Linked DNA regions of Homo sapiens: regions 1, 2 and 4 are each linked to region 3. The links come from fine-mapping of genetic effects on gene expression. A gene starts in region 3. Each other region holds a variant in brackets. All regions are shown on one strand. Distances are from middle to middle. Region 1 has its middle 67 kb from the start of CD164. Region 2 overlaps AK9 (adenylate kinase 9). Region 3 holds the start of CD164 (CD164 molecule). Region 4 has its middle 56 kb from the start of CD164.

Evidence for each region. PIP is the estimated chance that this variant, and not a neighbour inherited with it, causes the effect.
Region 1: its variant is the best candidate, but not a certain one, in a credible set for the expression of CD164 in spinal cord (GTEx, PIP 0.59).
Region 2: its variant is the best candidate, but not a certain one, in a credible set for the expression of CD164 in whole blood (INTERVAL, PIP 0.83).
Region 4: its variant is the best candidate, but not a certain one, in a credible set for the expression of CD164 in thyroid (GTEx, PIP 0.53).

The regions. Positions count from the first base shown.
Region 1 is chr6:109,312,935-109,318,086 of GRCh38, forward strand. It overlaps the pseudogene CCDC162P. Among named protein-coding and RNA genes, the nearest start is that of CD164, 67 kb to the right of the region's middle. The variant G/A (reference allele first, on the strand shown) is at 2,959.
Region 2 is chr6:109,644,660-109,649,811 of GRCh38, forward strand. AK9 (adenylate kinase 9) reads right to left here. Exons shown (of 41, transcript NM_001145128.3): 9 at 1-29. Among named protein-coding and RNA genes, the nearest start is that of AK9, 44 kb to the right of the region's middle. The variant G/GCACCA (reference allele first, on the strand shown) is at 3,137.
Region 3 is chr6:109,380,109-109,385,260 of GRCh38, forward strand. CD164 (CD164 molecule) reads right to left here and starts at 2,359. Exons shown (of 6, transcript NM_006016.6): 1 at 2,096-2,359. The coding sequence starts at 2,270. RefSeq lists a silencer at 1,817-2,096 and enhancers at 2,252-2,761, 2,317-2,666, 2,747-2,976.
Region 4 is chr6:109,323,916-109,329,067 of GRCh38, forward strand. It overlaps the pseudogene CCDC162P and the pseudogene RPL7P28. Among named protein-coding and RNA genes, the nearest start is that of CD164, 56 kb to the right of the region's middle. RefSeq lists an enhancer at 4,670-5,152. The variant G/A (reference allele first, on the strand shown) is at 2,460.

The sequences.
Region 1 (5,152 bases), 67 kb before region 3:
GCCAGTGTGTAAGAATTCATTTGATGAAAGAGCTCTGAGGATAAAATAAAATCTGGAAATCCATGCACTAGCTGATTGTTGGGGAGGCAGGCTACAAGACTGAGGAGTTACCAGCAGTCTACAGGAACTCGCTCTCCCCTGGTTCTTGCTTATCAATTCTTCCTTGGACAATTTGACCAATACTCTTCCTGGCAGGCAGGCTTTTCCTTAGATATGTTAATACCACTGCTCTAGGATCCAATTATACCAGGTTGTTCTCCCTGTTTCTAGCCAGGAAACGTGAGTGTCTCGGGTACTGTCACCTAAATGCTCTCTAAGCCTCTTTTTATCATAACGTCATGGGATTTGCCAACCTGGTCTGCCAAGAAGAGCTCCTTTTTCTGTGACTGAGACACTATGTACAGGCAGTGGGCCTGGACGTGATCCTCATTTTGTTCCTCACTCTGGGTGACCCTGGCCCTCAGACCGCTGGCTGCAGGACAGCAGGACAAACAAGGACCTGAATACCTTGTTTCCTCCATGTCCTCCAGGGCTCATAGCAGCCCCTCCACAATTATTTACTTAAGGAAAGCACCAATGAATAAATGAAGAAATCATAATTTTAAAGTAATCTTTCTTATTGAATGATAAATTCTAATTAAGAGAAATGTTTCCTGCCTAACTTCTAAAAGAGGAGAAGAAACAGGAGGTAGGATAAATTAACTTTCTATTTCTTTACCCATAAGATGGGTAAAATCCTGAATGGAAAGTTACTTCTTGGCCCCACCGTGATGGGAACTTTAATCTCAGGTATATTGAAGAGCACTTTCCAGAATGCAGAGGGAAAACACAAAAGGCTCAGTTTTTCAAAGGCAGATAAAACGTTAGTATGCAAGTAAGCGAGTTTTCAAAATGAATGGTTCCAGACCCAAGCAAAAAGCTGCAGTTGAGACATTCCTATCCTTTCCATAAACTGTTCATGAAGGATGGTCAACCTCTCTCAACTCTATATGTGCTGTGGGCCTGTAAACCATTCCTCCTGGGGAAAAAGTTAATTCTCCAAAGACTTTGTTTTGCACAGGCTGCATGTGAAAGGTTAGCCTGTGTTGGTCCATGATCAATAAAGAAGGATTTCCATAATGCTTTCAGCCAGATTGGTCCAAAGTGCCAGGATTCAGAAGTCAGTTCCGAAGCAGCCCAAAGACCTCTGAGCTGCTGGAGGGCCTGTGCGATGCGGTGATGTCCTTTGCTTTGCTGAGATCATTTCTGATACTGTGGAAGCAGCTGGAAGTGCTAAAGGAGCACTGGGGCCGACTCAAGCTGCAAGGCCAGGATATCAACTCTGTCTCTCTCCACAAACGGTTTTCAGAGCTCTATGAGTGAGTGTTGCTGATGCTGAAATTCATGGCCATGACTAGAACCTGGGGGATGGCAGATTCCTGCCCTTAGTCTGAGGGCGAGATTTGGTCCATGAATCCTAATATGACCCGTTAGACCCACGGACTGAGTCTCTCAGAGCTTGTGGCATTGCAGCCAGAGATATACAGATGGCACATGCGGCACAAGTCTGAGGAATGGGAGGCATTCTAGCAGCTGCAGGCCCTGGCTCGAATGACGTAGCTGGCTGGGAAGGCGTGTTGCTTCTGCCACGTGTCTGTTAACAAACGAACATTTGCTAAGCACCCCCATACACCCTGGGCCTTACCAAGCTTAAGAACGTTTGCTTTAGGCCAGGCGTGGTGGCTCACAGCTGTAATCCCAGCACTTGGGGAGGCTGAGGCGGGTGGATTACCTGAGGTCAGAAGTTTGAGACCAGCCTGGCCAACACGGTGAAACCCTGTCTCTACTAAAAATACAAAAAATTGACCAGGTGTGATGGTGGGTACCTGTAATCCCAGCTACTCGGGAGGCTGAGGCAGAAGAATGGCTTGAACCCAGGAGGCGGAGGTTGCAGTGAGCTGAGATCGCACCATTGCACTCCAGCCTGGGCAACAAGTGTGAAACTCCCTCTCAAAAAACAAAAACAAACAACAACAACAACAATAACAACAACAAAAAGTTCACTTTGGTACAGCCAGATTGTTTATCTTGTGAAATTATTATAGTCAGTGTCCCTGATAACTAGGGAAGGTGAAGACTTGTCAATATTTTGAAGAATGAGGACTGAAATTATATGCACCCAATGGGAAAAAGCCTCACGATTTCATGTGGCTAAGGAATGATAACTGTGGTGAATTAAATGTTGATGTATCTGTGAATGGGTTAGGATACTGATGATAGGAAAGAGAAAATGAATGAAAATAATTATCAGAGAATTGAAATGAGAAAAAATATGTTTGCTAATTTCTGTCTTTCTTCTTTAATAGAACTGACGTTCTCTACCCCAGCATGAAAGCTATAGCCAGGCAGATGGGGAAAGAAGATGAATTTGAAGGATTTATAGTAAATAATCAGTCTGTTCTTCCCCCCAGTGGAGCCTCAGAAGTTGAAATAAAAACTCACCAAGTATGCAGGATATATTTTAAATTTGCCTTTGAAAATGTCCTTTATGGCATTAGCATGTAAAACTACAGGCATACCCAAATGGTATTTTTTCCAAGAAGCTGAGTGTAAATTGCAGGGTTGTAAATCATTGAATGGGCTGGAGGGAGGGCAGGACTAAGTATTTAAAGCCATGTGGTGCTTCGATGAAGCAAATTACTACCCTTAATGTCCCTGTTCTATAAGTCTGGATTTTTATCATTTTGATTTTCCTCAAATTGATGTGTACCTTCATAAGAATGATCATAGAAAACATAACCACTATCTTAAGCATAAAATTTAGCATGCAAGTATTCACATGGAAATGAAATATTTGTAAAAGCTCCCTGTAATTGTTTTTCTGAGAATAAGAAAATGCCCATTTGGTATGTGTAAGATGATCTGTGTGGAGAAGTTGTTTTCCCGAGTCTTTGTTCAGCTTGATCCTGGGACTCACGC[G/A]CTCTGTGGCTGGGCTTATTGTACCAGGCAAGCAAAGCCTCGGCTGTTCGGTTGTCAATGCACAGATGCTCATCCACTGAGCAACAAGGAGAAGTCAGCCCCTGTCAGGCCCCAGTGCCAAGCTCACTGCTTACCCTTCTGAGCCCTATTCCTTTCCAGTACCTGGGGGCCTTCAACAGGGAGAAACCTACACTCTGCAAGCATAATGGATTGAGTGAGGGCTCACAGTTTTTGGAAGACTTTACTGTTGGTCCTACATGGAGTTTTAAATCTTGTGAAATCTTCCTTGGTATCTAAATCAAGTTTTATACCTGAGGGCTTCTTTTTTTTTTTTGAGTCTTGCTCTGTCGCCCAGGCTAGAGTGCAGTGGCGCGATCTCAGCTCACTGCAACCTCCGCCTCTCAGGTTCAAGCAATTCTCCTGCCTCAGTCTCCCGAGTAGCTGGGATTACAGGCGCCCGGCTAATTTTTTTATTTTTAGTAGAGATGGGGTTTCATCATCTTGGCTAGGCTGGTCTCGAACTCCTGACCTTGTGATCCACCTGCCTCGGCCTCCCAAAGTGTTGAGATTACAGGTGTGAGCCATTGTGCCCGGCTGAGAGCTTCTTTTGTAATGAGAACTCACAGAATCCTAGCCACATTTAGAGACCCCGGAAGACATGAGGTCACCCCAGGGATTAGACACTTTGCAATTTAGCAAAACTTGGTTAAAAAAAAAAAAAGGATTGTATTTTATCAATGAGGATGTGAGCCAGGAAGAAAAGGTGCTAGTCTCCAGGGAGGTACATCTGTGCCCCCAGAAGCACTTGGGAGACCTAGAAGGGAAGTGTTCCTTCTTTCCCGGGAGAGTAGCTGAGGGACAGGCCCTAGCCCAAAGCCCTTCTGCAGGAATGTGACACGGGACCCAAAATATAATCTGAATGTAGTGAGTGACCCTCAACCTATGCTTACTCTAGCTTCAAAAACTTCTGGAAAATTGTGAAATTCAAATGATCCAAGAGGTACTAAGAAAAGTTAACAGAGAAATGACACTGGTTTTATCAGAAAAGTGCAAGGAGGAGTGTTCTCTCCCTACAGGTAAAGTACATTTATTTTGTTACTTCACAAAATAATGTTTATTGGTTTTTCCTAATTACGAAAGCAATTCATGTATCGACATTTGTTGTAAAAACAAGCAAAAACCAAAACATCGGTGCGATGCCCGGAAAATGATATAAAAATGACCTTTTACCCTTGACCCTGTGCAATGAAAGGGCAAGCCTCTCCCCAGCTGGGTGTCTCTAAATGCCACCAGAGAGCTGAGTGTGGTTGAGCTCTAGTTACAGAACCTGCAACAAGACACAAAGCCCTTTGGTATATTTCTTTCCCTGTACAAAGGCTTTTTTAAACAAATGGAAAACATAGTTTCACTTCAGTTTCAACTCTACTGATTAACTCATAACTGAAATAAAGTTGAAATGAAGGGAAACCTAAAGCCTTTCTTATTTGTAACATATATAAGTTATGATATGTCAAATTTGTATATTTAGGGTATGAAGGCAATCAGAATGGTTCCTTCCATCTGAGGTCCAAACTTGGGGCCACTTCACGGGCATGTGACACACAGGATGCAGAGGGGCACTTGAGATTTCATGTTCTGTGATCACCATCCTGAAACTTTTAATGGTTTACCTTTGAATTTGTTCAAAGTTACAATTCTAGGTACCTAAAGTGGGCAGGAGGCTTACCCTTCCTGAGCTACCCATTGAACGCATGGTGTTGCTGCCAGCCTGGGACCCCTGAGATGCTGCCGGGTGCACACGTCTGACCTTGACCCTCCCTGTACCCAGAGGGGACGGGGACCTTGGCACAGGGAGGGTCAAGGTCAGGCGTGTGCACCTGGCAGCATCTCAGGGGTCTTAGGCTGGCAGCACCACCATGTGTTCAATGGGTAGCTCAGTGAGGGCAAGCCTCCTGCCCACCTTGGGTACCTAGAGTCTCTCAGGACAGAGGTTGCAGTACTCTTGGGGGTTGCCTTTCCACAGTGGATTGGGGTGGTGGGAAGGGGAGATGCCTGACTCAACTTCTCATCCCCAGGCAGGGCCCGGTGCCTCAGTCTGGTAGCTGGCGGGTCATGCGTATTCATGCACTGAGACACAGGCAGGGCCACTGGGTGCTTATGGGGGTCTCACTTCCCCTGCACATATTCCCATGAC
Region 2 (5,152 bases), 260 kb after region 3:
TACTGGGGATTGTGTTCAGCCATTACTTCCTGCAGATAATAGAAAAGAAACTTTATAATACAGGATCACTAGAAAAACTGAATACAAGATCAGAATCTTAATATACTGTGCAGATATATTTAAAGTAAATTGTTTGCCTTATACATGCTATAATGTATGTTATTTTCAATGCTCAAGAGATCTTTTGCAAAAGCTCAAACTAATCTTCTCACCATGAATTTTATTTTCCTGTTTAAAAAAATCTTTTTTCTCTACTTTGATGCCTTAATGTTTTTTCCAATACAAAATGTTTTGGGGCATCTATCTGCATATGTTCATAGCTTTGCTATTTGGTTTCTAAACCATGGAAGCATCTGATTAAACTTTAAGTCACAGACTTTCTTCACATAGATACTAGCATCATTTAGAAGATACAACGTATTTTGATCGTTCCAAGATGGCCAAATAGGAACAGTTCCGGTCTACAGCTCCCAGCGTGATCGATGCAGAAGATGGGTGATTTCTGCATTTCCAACTGAGGTACTTGGTTCATCTCAATGGGACTGGTTGGACAGTGGGTGCAGCCCATGGAGGGCGAGCCGAAGCAGGGCAGGGCATCACTTCACCTGGGAAGCACAAGGGGTGGGGGGATTTCGCTTTCCTAGCCAAGGGAAAGTGTTTCCAAGGGTACCTGGAAAATCGGGACACTCCTGCCCTAATACTGCGCTTTTCCAACAGTCTTAGCAAATGGCACACCAGGAGATTATATGCTGCGCCTGGCTCAGAGCACCCCATGCCCACAGAGCCTTGCTCACTGCTAGCACAGCAGTCCAAGATCCAACTGCGAGGCAGCAGCCAGGCTGGGCGAGGGGCATCCGCCATTGCTGAGGCTTGACTAGGTAAACAAAGCAGCCAGAAGCTCAAACTGGGTGGAGCCCACCACAGCTCAACGAGGCCTGCCTGCCTCTGTAGACTCCACCTCTGGGGGCAGGGCATAGCTGAACAAAAGGCAGCAGAAACTTGTGCAGACTTAAACGTCCCTGTCTGACAGCTTTGAAGACAGCAGTGGTTCTCCCAGCACAGAGTTTGAGCTCTGAGAATGGAGAGACTGCCTCCTCAAGTGGGTCTCTGACCCTTGAGTAGCCTAACTTGGAGACACCTCCCAGTAGGGGCTCACTGACACCTCATACAGCCAAGAGCTCCTCTGAGATGAAGCTTCCAGAGGAAGGATCAGGCAGCAACATTTGCTGTTCTGCAATATTTGATGTTCTGTTCTACAGCGTTCGCTGGTGATACCCAGGCAAACAGGGTATCCATAGAGTGGACCTCCAGCAAACTCCAACAGACCTGCAGCTGAGGGTCCTAACTGTTAGAAGGAAAACTAACAAACAGAAAACAGTAGCATCAACATCAACAAAAAGGACATCGACACCAAAACCCCATCTGTAAGTCACCATCATCAAAGACCAAAGGTAGATAAAATCACAAAGATGGGGAGAAACCAGAGCAGAACAGCTGAAAATTCTAAAAACCAGAGTGCCTCTAATCCTCCAAAGGATTGCAGCCCCTCACCAGCAATGGAAGAAAGCTGGACGGAGAATGACTTTGACAAGTTGACAGAAGTAGGCTTCAGAAGGTCGGTAATAACAAACTTCTCTGAGCTAAAGGAGGATGTTTGAACCCATTGCAAGGAAGGTAAAAACCTTGAAAAAAGGTTAGACGAATGGCTAACTAGAATAAACAGGGTAGACAAGACCTTAAATGACATGATGGAGCTGAAAACCATGGCATGAGAACTACGTGATGCATGCACAAGCTTCAGTAGCTGATTCAATCAAGTGGAAGAAAGGGTACCAGTGATTGAAGATCAAATGAATGAAATGAAGCAAGAAGTTTAGAAAAAAAAGAGTAAAAAGAAATGAAAGAGCCTCCAAGAAATATGGGACTATGTGAAAAGACCAAACCTAAGTTTGATTGGTGTACCTGAAAGTGACAGGGAGAACAGACCTAAGTTGGAAAACACTCTTCAGGATATTATCCAGGAAAACTTCCCCAACCTAGCAAGGCAGGCCAACATTCAAATTCAGGAAATACAGAGAACGCTACAAAGATACTCCTTGAGAAGAGCAACCCCAAGACACATAATTGTCAGATTCACCAAGGTTAAAATGAAGGAAAAAATGTTAAGGGCAGCCAGAGAGAAAGGTTGGGTTACCCACAAAGAGAAGCCCATCAGACTAACAGTGGATCTCTTGGCAGAAACTCCACAAGCCAGAAGAGAGTGGGGGCCAATATTCAACATTCTTAAAGAAAATAATTTTCAACCCAGAATTTCATATCCAGCCAAACTAAGCTTCATAACTGAAGGAGAAATAAAATCCTTTACAGACAAGCAAATGCTGAGAGATTTTGTCACCACCAGGCCCGCCTTACAAGAGCTCCTGAGGAAACACTAAGCATGGAAAGGAACAACCAGTAACAGTCACTGAAAAAACATGCCAAGTTGTAAAGAGCATCAAGGCTAGGAAGAAACTGCATCAGCTAACGAGCAAAATAACCAGCTAACATCATAATGACAGGATCAAATTCACAAATAACAATATTAACTTTAAATGTAAATGGGCTAAATGCTCCAATTAAAAGACACAGATTGGCAAATTGGATAAAGAGTCAAGACCCATCAGTGTGCTGTATTCAGGAGACCCATCTCACGTGCAGAGACACACATAGGCTCAAAATAAAGGGATGGAGGAAGATCTACCAAGAAAATGGAAAACAAAAAAAGGCAGGGGTTGCAATCCTAGTCTCTGATAAAACAGACTTGAAACCAACAAAGATCAAAAGAGACAAGGAAGGCCATTACATAATGGTAAAGGGATCAGTTCAACAATAAGAGCTAACTATTCTAAATATATATGCACCCAATACAGGAGCACCCAGATTCATAAAGCAAGTCCTTAGTGACTTACAAAGAAACTTAGACTCCCACACAATAATAATGGGAGACTTTAACACCCCACTGTCAACATTAGACAGATCAACGAGACAGAAAGTTAACAAGGATACCCAGGAATTGAACTCAGCTCTGCAACAAGCAGATCTAATAGACATCTACAGAACTCTCCACCCCAAATCAACAGAATATACATTCTTCTCA[G/GCACCA]CACCACACCACACCTACTCCAAAACTGACCACATAGTTGGAAGTAAAGAACTCCTCAGCAAATGTAAAAGAACAGAAATTATAACAAACTGTCTCTCAGACCACAGTGCAATCAAACTAGAACTCAGGATTAAGAAACTCACTCAAAACCGCTCAACTACATGGAAACTGAACAACCTGCTCCTGAATGACTACTGGGTACATAATGAAATGAAGGCAGAAATAAAGATGTTCTTTGAAACCAACGAGAACAAAGACACAACATACCAGAATCTCTGGGACACATTCAAAGCAGTGAGTAGAGGGAAATTTATAGCACTAAATGCCCACAAGAGAAAGCAGGCAAGATCTAAAATTGACACCCTAACATCACAATTAAAAGAACTAGAAAAGCAAGAGCAAACACATTGAAAAGCTAGCAGAAGGTAAGACATAACTAAGATCAGAGCAGAACTGAAGGAAATAGAGACACAAAAAAATCCTTCAAAAAATCAATGAATCCAGGAGCTAGTTTTTTGAAAAGATCAACAAAATTGATAGAACGCTAGCAAGACTAATAAAGAAGAAAAGAGAGAAGAATCAAATAGACACAATAAAAAATGATAAAGGGGATATCACCACCAATCCCACAGAAATAGAAACTATCATAAGAGAATACTATAAATACCTCTACACAAATAAACTAGAAAATCTAGAAGAAATAGATAAATTCCTCGACACATACACCCTCCCAAGACTAAACCAGGAAGAAGTTGAATCTCTGAATAGACCAATAACAGGCTCTGAAATTGACGCAATAATCAATAGCTTACCAAACAAAAAGAGTCCAGGACCAGATGGATTCACAGCCAAATTCTACCAAAGGTACAAAGAGGAGCTGGTACCATTCCTTCTGAAACTATTCCAATCAATAGAAAAAGAGGGAATCCTCCCTAATTCATTTTATGAGGTCAGCATCATCCTGATACCAAAGACTGGCAGAGACACAACCAAAAAAGAGAATTTTAGACCAATATCCTTGATGAACATCGATGCAAAAATCCTCAATAAAATACTGGCAAACCGAATCCAGCAGCACATCAAAAAGTTTATCCACCATGATCAAGTGGGCTTCATCCCTGGGATGCAAGGCTGGTACAATATATGCAAATCAATAAATGTAATCCAACATATAAACAGAACCAAAGACAAAAACCACATGATTATCTCAACAGATGCAGAAAAGGCCTTTGACAAAATTCAACAACCGTTCATGCTAAAAACTCTCAATAAATTAGTTATTGATGGGACATATCTCAAAATAATAAGAGTTATCTATGACAAACCCACAGCGAATATCATACTGAATGGACACAAACTGGAAGCATTCCCTTTGAAAACTGGCACAAGACAGGGATGCCCTCTCTCACCACTCCTATTCAACATAGTGTTGGAAGTTCTGGCCAGGGCAATCAGGCAGGAGAAGGAAATAAAGGGTATTCAATTAGGAAAAGAGGAAGTCAAATTGTCCCTGTTTGCAGATGACATGATTGCATATCTAGAAAACCCCATCGTCTCAGCCCAAAATCTCCTCAAGCTGATAAGCAACTTCAGCAAAGTCTCAGGATACAAAATCAATGTATAAAAATCACAAGCATTCTTATACACCAATAACAGAGAGCCAAATCATGAGTGAACTCCCATTCACAATTGCTTCGAAGAGAATAAAATACCTAGGAATCCAACTTACAAGGGATGTGAAGGACCTCTTCAAGGAGAACTACAAACCACTGCTCAATGAAATAAAAGAGGACACAAACAAATGGAAGAACATTCCATGCTCATGGGTAGGAACAATCAATATCGTGAAAATGGCCATACTGCCCAAGGTAATTTATAGATTCAATGCCATCCCCATCAAGCTACCAATGACTTTCTTCACAGAATTGGAAAAAACTACTTTAAAGTTCATATGGAACCAAAAAAGAGCTGGCATCGCCAAGGCAATCCTAAGCCAAAAGAACAAAGCTGGAGGCA
Region 3 (5,152 bases):
TGAACCCAAGCACTGATGATGCCCATTCTGCTGCAAACAAAGATAATTTCCCAGGGATTCTCGATTCATAAATGATCCACTCTCGACAGGATCCTCCACAACTGGAGACAACATCTAAAAGCCCATATTCAAGTGCATACAATTCAGGTTAACAAGGTATTTGTCAATAGTTCATCCTAGGCCAAACAATCCAGAAACAAGTACTCATCACCATAATTCAATTTCTGGAGAAGAACGGACTATAAAATTGGGCTCTATTTTCCAGTGAGAAAAAGCAGCAAAATAAAAGAAAAAAAAGAATTGGGCTCCATTCATTTTCCTAGAAACTAGATGCCTCCAAACATTCTCGTTTGCTTTGCTCCTGCCTAAAAAATAGTTCTGCAGAGGCACTGCTTTCAATACTTCATCATTAGTACTTATTAAAGACTGGGACATGTACGGTGGGGTGGGGAAGGGTTCATAAAGTAAAAATAAATTTTCTGAAGTTTGTATAGATAAAACATGCTGTTTAAAAACCTTTGTGCTTGACGGGTGTAGCAAAGTGAAATGTCTGAAATGTTCTTTACAATGAACTAAACTTGCTACCTTTCAGACCACACTACATCCACTTATGATTTCCAGAAAATACATACCTCCTTTGCACGCACTTCAATTACACAAAGACAAATTAATTTGATACTTCCAACCTTCTCTTACACACACACTACAATTCTGAAAGGAAACTGTCAAATTAAGACTGAGACAAACATATTCTGCTCTATCATCTTAAAATAGTGCGGTTAGAATTCCCAGTATTATACTGCAATTTACTTCCCTCGTTTTGAAATGTTACCATTACATCTTCCTTAAACTAAAAACAAAACATTAAGTTTACTATATACTTTATTAAACTTTTATAAAATACTAAAACTAGAGGAGAATTTGTAGAATATGAATGCCGTGATAAAAATCATTACACTTCGGCATTCTTCGGTCAAGAAGCCAATGTTAACTACGTAAACATTACTCCTTAACTAATGTTAACTAGAATAACCAATCATACGAGACTGCAGGTTTTAAACCTCTAGTGTTTCTCCCGCTTATTACCTCAAACTTATCTTCCTTCTCTCTTTTGTGTTGTCACGGTATATGGCAATTTCTGCTTTAAAATGTATGTATGCCTTAACCAGCCCTATGCGACTGCACATAACAAAAGACACGCTCCTGATCGGGTTTTAGAAAACCCACAGACCTGGGCACAAACCCCCGTTCCACGACCTACTAAACATACGCTATCTGAGCACAGGACATAGTTAAGAAAATTTTAAAAACAATTGAAAAAAGAATAAACATACAATGTCAGGAGAGTTTACTCATCTCCGTCTCTGCATCTACCTCCTAGGTTTCACTACCTACCTTCCAGTTTAGCCTTAGGATACGTACGCAAAACACCCGGTACATACATGGGTACTTTTCTTCCTTTTCGCATACTTTGAAGTGTGAAGTTTTCACTAACTACGTGCTCAAACGTCAGCTACATTCTATTCCTATCTGCAAAACCAATGTAATTAAATCTCAAGCGACCTTCTCAGACTCAAGTCTGAGACACGAACGAGCATTACCGTCTTTAAGTTTCTCTTTCCCGGACTTCCGGAGAAGGCTACCTCCGGAGAGAGGCGCCGGGAGGGTGAACAACCAGTGGCAGGGAGAGGCAGCTCGGCCCCACCGCCAACCTCAGAGGCGCGACGCCCGGCCCCATCCTCAACCCCACCGCTGCCCCCGCGGAAGGAAGCCACGTCCCCATTTCCGACCCCAAGTGAGGCTAGGAATTACGATGCACTTTTAAAAGGCACCTCGACTTGCAACACTTCGAGGGGGGCCCCAGCCCCGCAGCCACTGGGAACCGCGCGTCCGCTTCCCCCCAGCGCGCTCCCCACCCGGCCCGGCCACGAGTGGACTCCAGGCTGGCCGCCATGTTGCCGGAGTCGCCGCCGCACCCCGAGCGCGGCCCGCCCGCCCGACCGTGGCCCGAACCCGGGCCCCGCCCGCACGGCGAGGAGGCAGTGCGGCTCGGCTGGGCAGGGGAGGGCGGGAAGCCCACAGGGCCCGCGCCCACCTGGTGCCGGAGTGGTGACCAGCGGGAGGGACGTCACCGGCGCCGAGGTTACGTTGGAGATGGGCGCTAAAGTCGTCACGTTCGGGTGCTGGGTCGTGTTCTTGTCCGCGGACAGCACGCAGAGCACGCCCAGGCAGGTGGCGGCCCAAAGCAGTGAGCGGGAGAGCCGCGACATCGTGTCCTCAGCGCTGGCGTTCGGGAGAAAGCTAAGGCTCGCAACGCTCAGTCAACCCCTCAATCCCCTGCGGCGCCGCCTCCGAGACTACGCTCCCCCGCGGGAGCGCGCAGGGGTCACGTGAGAGGCCCCTGTTTTCGGCGTGCGGGGGCGAAGAGGAGGGAGGTGGGGCTCGGACGATACCAACGGGAATCCTACGGGGGGAAGCAGGGGAGTCGGGAGGAAGCCGAAGGAACCTGGCCCTCAAAGCGACTGTGCCACAGCCAAGAAAACTGGGAGCTTCTGCAAATCGTTCTTCTTGCCCTCAGATTACCAGACACGACGCAGCTGGACTTGTCTCATGCCTGCGATAGGGACGGCCCCCACCCTGACTTGCATGGAACAGTCGACATAATGTGGCCTACTGCTTCCACCTGAGCGCCCCGCCAGGCTGTAATTCCGCGGGCCCACGTGACCTCCGGGGCCGCGCCTTCCGGACGCAACTCCACTGGGGCGGAAGTTGGTTTTGTGCGGCTCTCAAGAACTAAGTTTGTGCTGTGCTGCGGGATCCCCAGGGAGCTTCCTTATATCTTCGGCAGGACCCCTTCTTTTTTTCTTGAAGATTGATTTTGCTAGAAGTTATCCTGTGATGGGACTCCCTAGGGGAATGGAGGCACCACGTGGTTAAGGAGTTTGTGCGTTGCCGCCCACATAGTGTGGGCAGCTGAGGCGCCGCCCGGATCAGAGCCGCAGGGCGTCTACTCTGTCACTTTCCCAACCTGACTTTTCCGGATTGCTATTTCAGACGGCGGTTGCAGCAGCCGACCTGTCTCAACTCCACCACTGTAGTCAGAGAATCAAAAGCGGTCTGAGTTGCGAGGTCATTGGGGAGGCCCCCACCCCCACATTACCAGTGAGGAAACTGAGACTTAAAAAAGTGACCTGACCTGGACACGGGATTGCCTGACATCAGAGCTGGATTCTTAAGTTCCTGTTAGTGTTAAGGCGCTGCTCAGACTTTTAGTAAAGGTGAGCGCCATCTACTGCCAAGTCTCACAAAATATTCGCAAAATTTGATACGGTTATCACATGGTAAAAATTAGACTTTAAAAGTTGTATTTAATGCTGTGTTTTCAGCTGTTGTACACTTATGTAATTTTAATTATGCAAAGTTATCCTAATAATATAGGAATATTAATTGCTTTCGTGAGGTCTGTCTTGATGTGCCACGATGACTTTTTTGATGTGCCAAAAAAGATGACTACATAGTGCTTTTACCTTTTTGCTCAAATAGAAAGATTTTATTTCCCCTTGGGATCTTTTCAGTGTCGTCCTTCTGTACCCTCAGGACTATGAACATTTGTTCCAATGACTACGCTAGTTGGAGTAGTGTTGCTTGGATGTAAACAAAAAGCTGATAGTTTTGACTGATCCAGCCCAGAAGCATGAGAATGCTGTCAGGGAAGTGAGCTCCCACCATAAGCCCTTCAGAGAAGTGTCTGCTCTTCTCTCAGGAGGCCTCTCTCTATATTTAACACTTGACTATCTGGCACCCAGACCAAATGAAAGCGCAAGGCAACTTTAATTTTTTTTTAAGGTTAAGAATGTAAATAGGGGCCGGACGCGGTGGCTCACGCCTGTAATGCCAGCACTTTGGGAGGCCAAGGCGGGTGGATCACCTGAGGTCCGGAGTTTGAGACCAGCTTGGCCAACATGGTGTAAACCCCGTCTCTCCTAAAAATACAAAAATTAGCCGGGCATGGTGGCACGTGCCTGTAATCCCAGCTACTAGCAGGGCTGAGGCAGGAGGATCGCTTGTATCCGGGAGGCGGAGGTTGCAGTGAGCCGAGATCACACCACTGCACTCCAGCTTGGGGAACAGAGCCAGACTCGTCTCAAAAAAAAAAAAAAAAAAAAAAATGTAAATAGAAGCTCTGTTCTCAGAGCTTGGTGTGTTATCTTCTTTCCACCCTAGGATAAACACACTCCTCTGTGCAGACCATTGTTTAACAATTTGTCACCTGGATGTTTAACTCTAGTCCTCAGATATTCCTCAGTCCTGATAAAGGGACATTTCACGCTCTTGTTTTAAGACTAGAAAACCATTGGTTTATTTTATTTTGCATGGCAACTGTAGAGGTAGATCAAGGGAGTTCCAAAGTCATTTTCACCATTTCAGAGAGACAGCTTTTTTTTTTTCAGTTCCTGACAGTAAGCTTCTGTTTATTGTTGTCATAGAGCAGGGTTTCTCAATCTTGGCGCTATCAAGATTTCAGGCTGACTCATTCTTGCTTGTCCTGTGCATTGTTGGATATTCGGCAGTATTCGTAGCCTCTACACACTAGATACCAGAAGCACCCCACCTCTCAGTTGTGACAACCAAAAATATCTCCCGATATTGTTAAATGTCTCCTGGGGGTAAAATCACAATTGAAAGGCACCCTCAGAGCGTTCTTCTGTGTGCAAGGTCAGCCATCACTCAGGTTATTTCCTCTTAGACACATTGCTTGCAATTAGATTGTCGATTGGTTGTTAGAGCGACCTTCTTAACCATTTATTTTCTTGAAAGCAGCAAGACAGAGTGCTTCTGCGCTTGTGAATCTTCTAGCAGTATAAGCTCCCTCTAAGTTTTTTAAACAGCAGATTTTTAAACAATGCTTCAGCCTTGTGTCAGTACCTTTCCCCAAATAAACAGATCAACACTCCAAACAGGACCCTGCCTTCTAGCTATAACTAACATCCAGTGGCCCCTTAATAATCAGAGGTTTGCCTCCACTACTTGATAGCAAGAAGTACAAACCCCCTTGTACTAGCTTATGTTAAAGGGAATCCATTCACTGTAAGAATATGACAGTAAATCTTATAGGCATTCAGGGGTGGGAAATCAAGTGTGTGAGGGCCAA
Region 4 (5,152 bases), 56 kb before region 3:
GTTTCGTCTTGGGAGCACTGAGCCTCCTGTCAGTAAATTGAGTGTGCAGGTAGGAAGTCTCATCTGAAATTAGAAACAGCTGGGGCAGGAGCAGGCTGGCAGGTGTCCCTGCTGATGACCAGCACCCCCCATTAACAGAAAACGGAGTGAGGTGGAGCGTGGCTCCTAAGTCCAACTCCATAGATCGCTTCCCTTCAGTATTCCCCTGGGACCACCACGAGGAGGTAGGCACTATCCAGCCAGTTCTTACCATTGTAATTAACGTGCACATGTGCTTTTGCTCTTCCACGTGGATGGAAGTCAAGCAGTGTTGACATTCTCACATCGTTCCACCACTGTCATGTTATTTTTAAGTATCTTATTTTTAACAGATAATATATGCACATGGTTCCAAACTCAAAATGATGAAAAATATACATTTAGAGTCTTGTTGTCACCATGAACCCCCTTGCATCCTAGTCTGCCACCTGTACGTAACCACTTTCATTAGTTTTCTGCATGTTCTTTCAGTGCTGCTTTGTGCATATATTCATTCTTTCATTCAATAACTATTCAATAAATATTTACATTCTTTCATTACAGGAACTATTCCATGTCCTAGGCTACTATATTTTAGGAAATATTTTAGGAATATATTCTTCCTTTCATTGAGTTTATAATCTAGGAAGGGGTAGACAACAAGCGATAACATAAGAAAAAGGAAAGCAATGGAGTAAGGAAGGGTGGTGTTGCGGCGGTTTGAAGGGGTCCACTGCAATTTTAAATTGGGTGATTAGGGTAGACCTCACTGAGTGAGTGATGTTTTGAGCAAAAGTTTGAAATAAGGTGAGGAATTGAGCTATGAGGGTATCTAAGGGAAGAGCATTCCAGACAGAAGGAACAAGCCATACAAAGGCCCTATGCAGAGCACGCCTATTATATTCAAAGAATAGCAAGGACCTAAGTGTGGCTGGAGTGGAGACCGTGAGGGAGAAAAAGTAGTAAGCGTTGAAGTCAGAGAGGGAGGGGGAAGGGGGGCAGACCATGCAAGGCCTTTTGAGGCTTTTGTGTTTACTCTAAATGCAGTGGGGACCAAGTCTCAGATTTTGAGTGTCATGATCTGGCTTATATTTTGACAGAATCTCTCTGGCTAAGGTGTGGAGAATAGGCTGTGAAGGAAGAAAGGGTGAAAGTAGAAAGAAGCTGGTGTGGAGGTTACTGCAATAACTGAAGAAAGGAGTGATGGTGGCTCAAACTTGGGAGCAGTGGAAATAGTGAATGGTCAAACTCTGGGCTTATTGTGAAGTAGGCACTAATGGGTTCAGTATTATTAGGTATGTGAGAAAGAAAAACCAATTATGACTCCAGCGTTCTCAATTGGGAAGATAGAATTTCTATCAGCTGAGAGGAAAACTGTGAAGCAAGTTAGGGAGGGAAGATTGGGAATTTGATTATGCACAAATTAAGTTTTAAATGCCTTTTAGACATCCAAGAAGACATGCCAAGTGAGTATTGGATCTAAATTTGCGAGTTGTCAGGATATGAATGGTATTTAGCTGTGAGACGAGATGAGAACGCCAAGGGAGTGAATATATATAGAAGTGAGGAGGTGGACCACGGCTGAGCCCTGAGACACTCTAATGTTAACAGCTGGGGGTGGTGGGGGAGGAGAAATAGCAAAAGACATCTAGAAGGAATAGAAAGAACAAACGTTGAGTTAGGAAAACTAGGGCACCGCAGTGTCCCAATGCCTAGTGAAGGAGATTTCTCAAGCAGGAGGAAGCGACAAATTGTGTGAAATGCTGCTGGTAGTTGAGTAAAACCACTGGCTTTAGCCACGTGCAGATCACTGGTGTTTGTGACAAAATCAGTTTCAGTGAAGTGGTGGAGGTGAAAACCAGGTAAGTGGGGTTAAGAGAGAATTTGTAAGACGTCAAAGGCAGTTTAAGTATAGACTTCTCTATCTGGGAGTTTTGCTACAACAGGGTACAAAGAAATGAGGCAATAGCTGATGGGTGAAGTGGGGTCAAGAGAAAGGTTTTTATGAGACGAGAGAAATAATGTATACTATTGTGAGTGATCCAGGAAAGAGGGGAGAAATGATGATAGAGAAGAAAGGGGAGTTTCTGGGGTAGTAATCCTAGTAGGCTTGAGGGGATATCCTCCCCCTTTATTATCATTTTAGTTATCTTTCTTATAAAATGTGGCATTTTATGGCCACTGTTCTGCACCTTGCCTTTTTCATTTAACAATCTGTGCTTCTTTTCATAACAGTATATGGAGAATTTTTCTTTTTTTCACAGCTGCGTACTATTTCATTGGAAGGATATGCCATAGTTTAAGTACGCCCTGAAGGGTGGACACTTGTGTGCTTCCAAGCTTTTGCTGCCATAACCAATGTTCCTCTGAATAACTCTGGTTATTTTCTTTAAATTTTTATATTTTTTCAAATTTATTTACCTTTTTTATTGCAGAGACAA[G/A]TGAACATTTATTTTTGTGCCTTTCTTCCTATGTGTATTTCAAGTCTTTTTCAAAGCAAGGCCCCAGGAATCTCTAGATTCAATTATGTCCCTGGGCTTGGTCGACTGCTGCAGGAGTCTTAGGGAGCCTTGTACAGATGCTAGAGTTACTCATTTACCAACATTAAACCCTGGGATAGACGATGCAGCAAAGCGGACGCCTTCCTCCATGGAATGTGCTGATTTCAGACGGGGCATCAGCCAATGTAGAAAACACTAACATTTTTTCTTGGAACTGGATTGTGATGAGAGGTGCTTGCCGTGAACATAAGCTACTATCTTTTGTTTTTTGGGTTGTTTTTTGTTTTGTTTTGTTTTGTTTTTGAGACGGAGTTTTGCTCTTGTTGCCCAGGCTGGAGGGCAATGGTGCGATCTTGACTCACCACAACCTCCGCCTCCCGGGTTCAAGCGATTTTCCTGCCTCAGCCTCCCGAGTAGCTGGGATTACAGGTGTGCACCATCACGCCCGGCTAATTTTTGTATTTTTAGTAGAGACAGGGTTTTTCCATGTTGTTCAGGCTGATCTTGAACTCTTGACCTCAGGTGATCTGCCTGCCTCAGTCTCCCAAAGTGTTGGAATTACAGGCGTGAGCCACCGCGCCTGGCCAGCTGCTGTCTTTTCTTTGGCGCTTCCTTTCCAGTTTTTGAAGATAAGGCAGGAAATAATCTTCTCTGAACATACTTGATAAAAATTCCCCAAAAAACAAAAACACATGCTTCCACTTCATTGACAAAAATTTACTGCAGTTTGGCACCTGGGTCTAGTTCAGCTGGCGGATAAGCTGATTGATGCGTTCACCCCGATAGCCAGGTGTGCCCATCTCCTTGAGGAAGCCCACTCTATTTTTGGTAGCATGACAGGCCACTGAGAGGTGGAAAGGGTGCAAGAACCATGGCATCTCCTGGAAATGCTTCCCTGGGGAGGCAATTTCATGAATGAGGTCTTCCAAGCAAATGATGCCAAACTTCCCCAGGTGCTCCTCAATCACTGTGTTGTCTGTCAGAGGGATGGTCTTATTCTTGACCTCGGATTCTCCATGTTTCAAAATGAGTTGCCAGACAGACTTCGGATTTGGAAATCCAAAGGTAACATAAGGTTCCACTATACGCAGCATTTTTAGGTTCTGGGGGGTTACTTTTACAAGACACCACTAAAAATTTTCTTTAGGTGAAGTGTTGCAATGGTTCTCTGCACCAGTAAACTCACACCATTAATCCTTTCAATGCGTTCAACAAAGGCCAAAGGATGTTTATCTGGCAATTCCAAAGTGTGAAGTTTCACTTCTAGTCATCTGAGATGCACCTTGTCACGTTTCTGCCGCCAGGAACCATGTAGGAATGATTCCAGTCATTTAAACCTGAGCCCTTTTCCTTTCCTCTGCTCCTTCTTTGCCAAAAGTGCCTGCTTTGCCTGGATGGCTTTGAGAGCTTGATAAGCCTTCCTCTTTTTCAGGAGATTTTCTGGAACCAAAGGGATTTTTCTTCGCTCTTGCTCTGCCATCTTTCTAGTGTTGCAGCTACTGATCACGTGCAACCCCTTTAATTTTTTTTTTTAGAGCAAGGATCTCAACCTGTTTCCCAGGCTGGAGTGCAGCGATGTAATCATGGTTCACTGTAGCCTTGACCTCCTGGGCTCAAGGGATTCTCCCACCTCAGCCTCCCAAGTAGCTAGGACTACAGGCATGCACCATCATGCCTGTCTATTTTAAATGTTTTGTGGAGATGGGGTCTCACTATGTTGCCCAGACTGGTCTGAACTCCTGGCCTCAAGTGAACTTTGTATATGCCTCATCCCATCTGTGTCAGCCATATTGCTGCTTCAATCTTGGAGCTAAAGTTCAGTCTGTCAACATTTCTAATCTGTAACTCTAACTTCTCTCTTTTGAATTTCCTCTCCTTTTTTATCACTATTATATATTCAAGTTAATTTTGCCCTCTAGCACTAGGAACTTAAGCAGATAAATATAATAGCTGTTCATTTATTTCTGATCATTGTTTTAGACCAAAATAATTGGCAGATACATAGAAGGCCTTAATAAAAATAAAGATGATGTAGGATTGATACTAATATTTGATTTGGGGTTTTTAGTTATGGTAATGGAATATTCCCTGGATTTCATAGGTGCTCTTCCAAATCTTTGCATTAGGAGTCAGGTTAGAGATCTTCCTAGTTCCCATGTTCCAGAGGGTCTTGGATCCCCAGTTGCCCAGCCCCCATTAGTTTTTGCATACAGTTGACCTTTGAACAACATGGTTTGAACTGTGCACGTCCACTGATACACAGATTTTTTTTCAACCAGATGAGGATAGAAAATACAGCATTCGGGATGTGAAAACCACGTGTGCAGAGGGCAGATATTTGTATCCACGAGCTCCCCAGGGCTGACTGCAGGATTTGAATATGCATGGATTCAGGATCTGAGGGTGTTCCTGGGAACAATCCCCAGTCCCCTGCATGTATCAAGGGGCAGCTGAGTTTAGAAACAGCTTATTGTGTCCCATGTTCTGTCTCAGAGAGTTGCCATTTTATAGCCATTAATGACAGCACAATGTTTTGTGGTACTAGTGCCAGTATGTTTTTCCCCCTAGATCTCTGGAAACACCAAGTCATGAAAGAAAACTTTTCAGTCTCAAGACCACAAATAGTTGAAAAA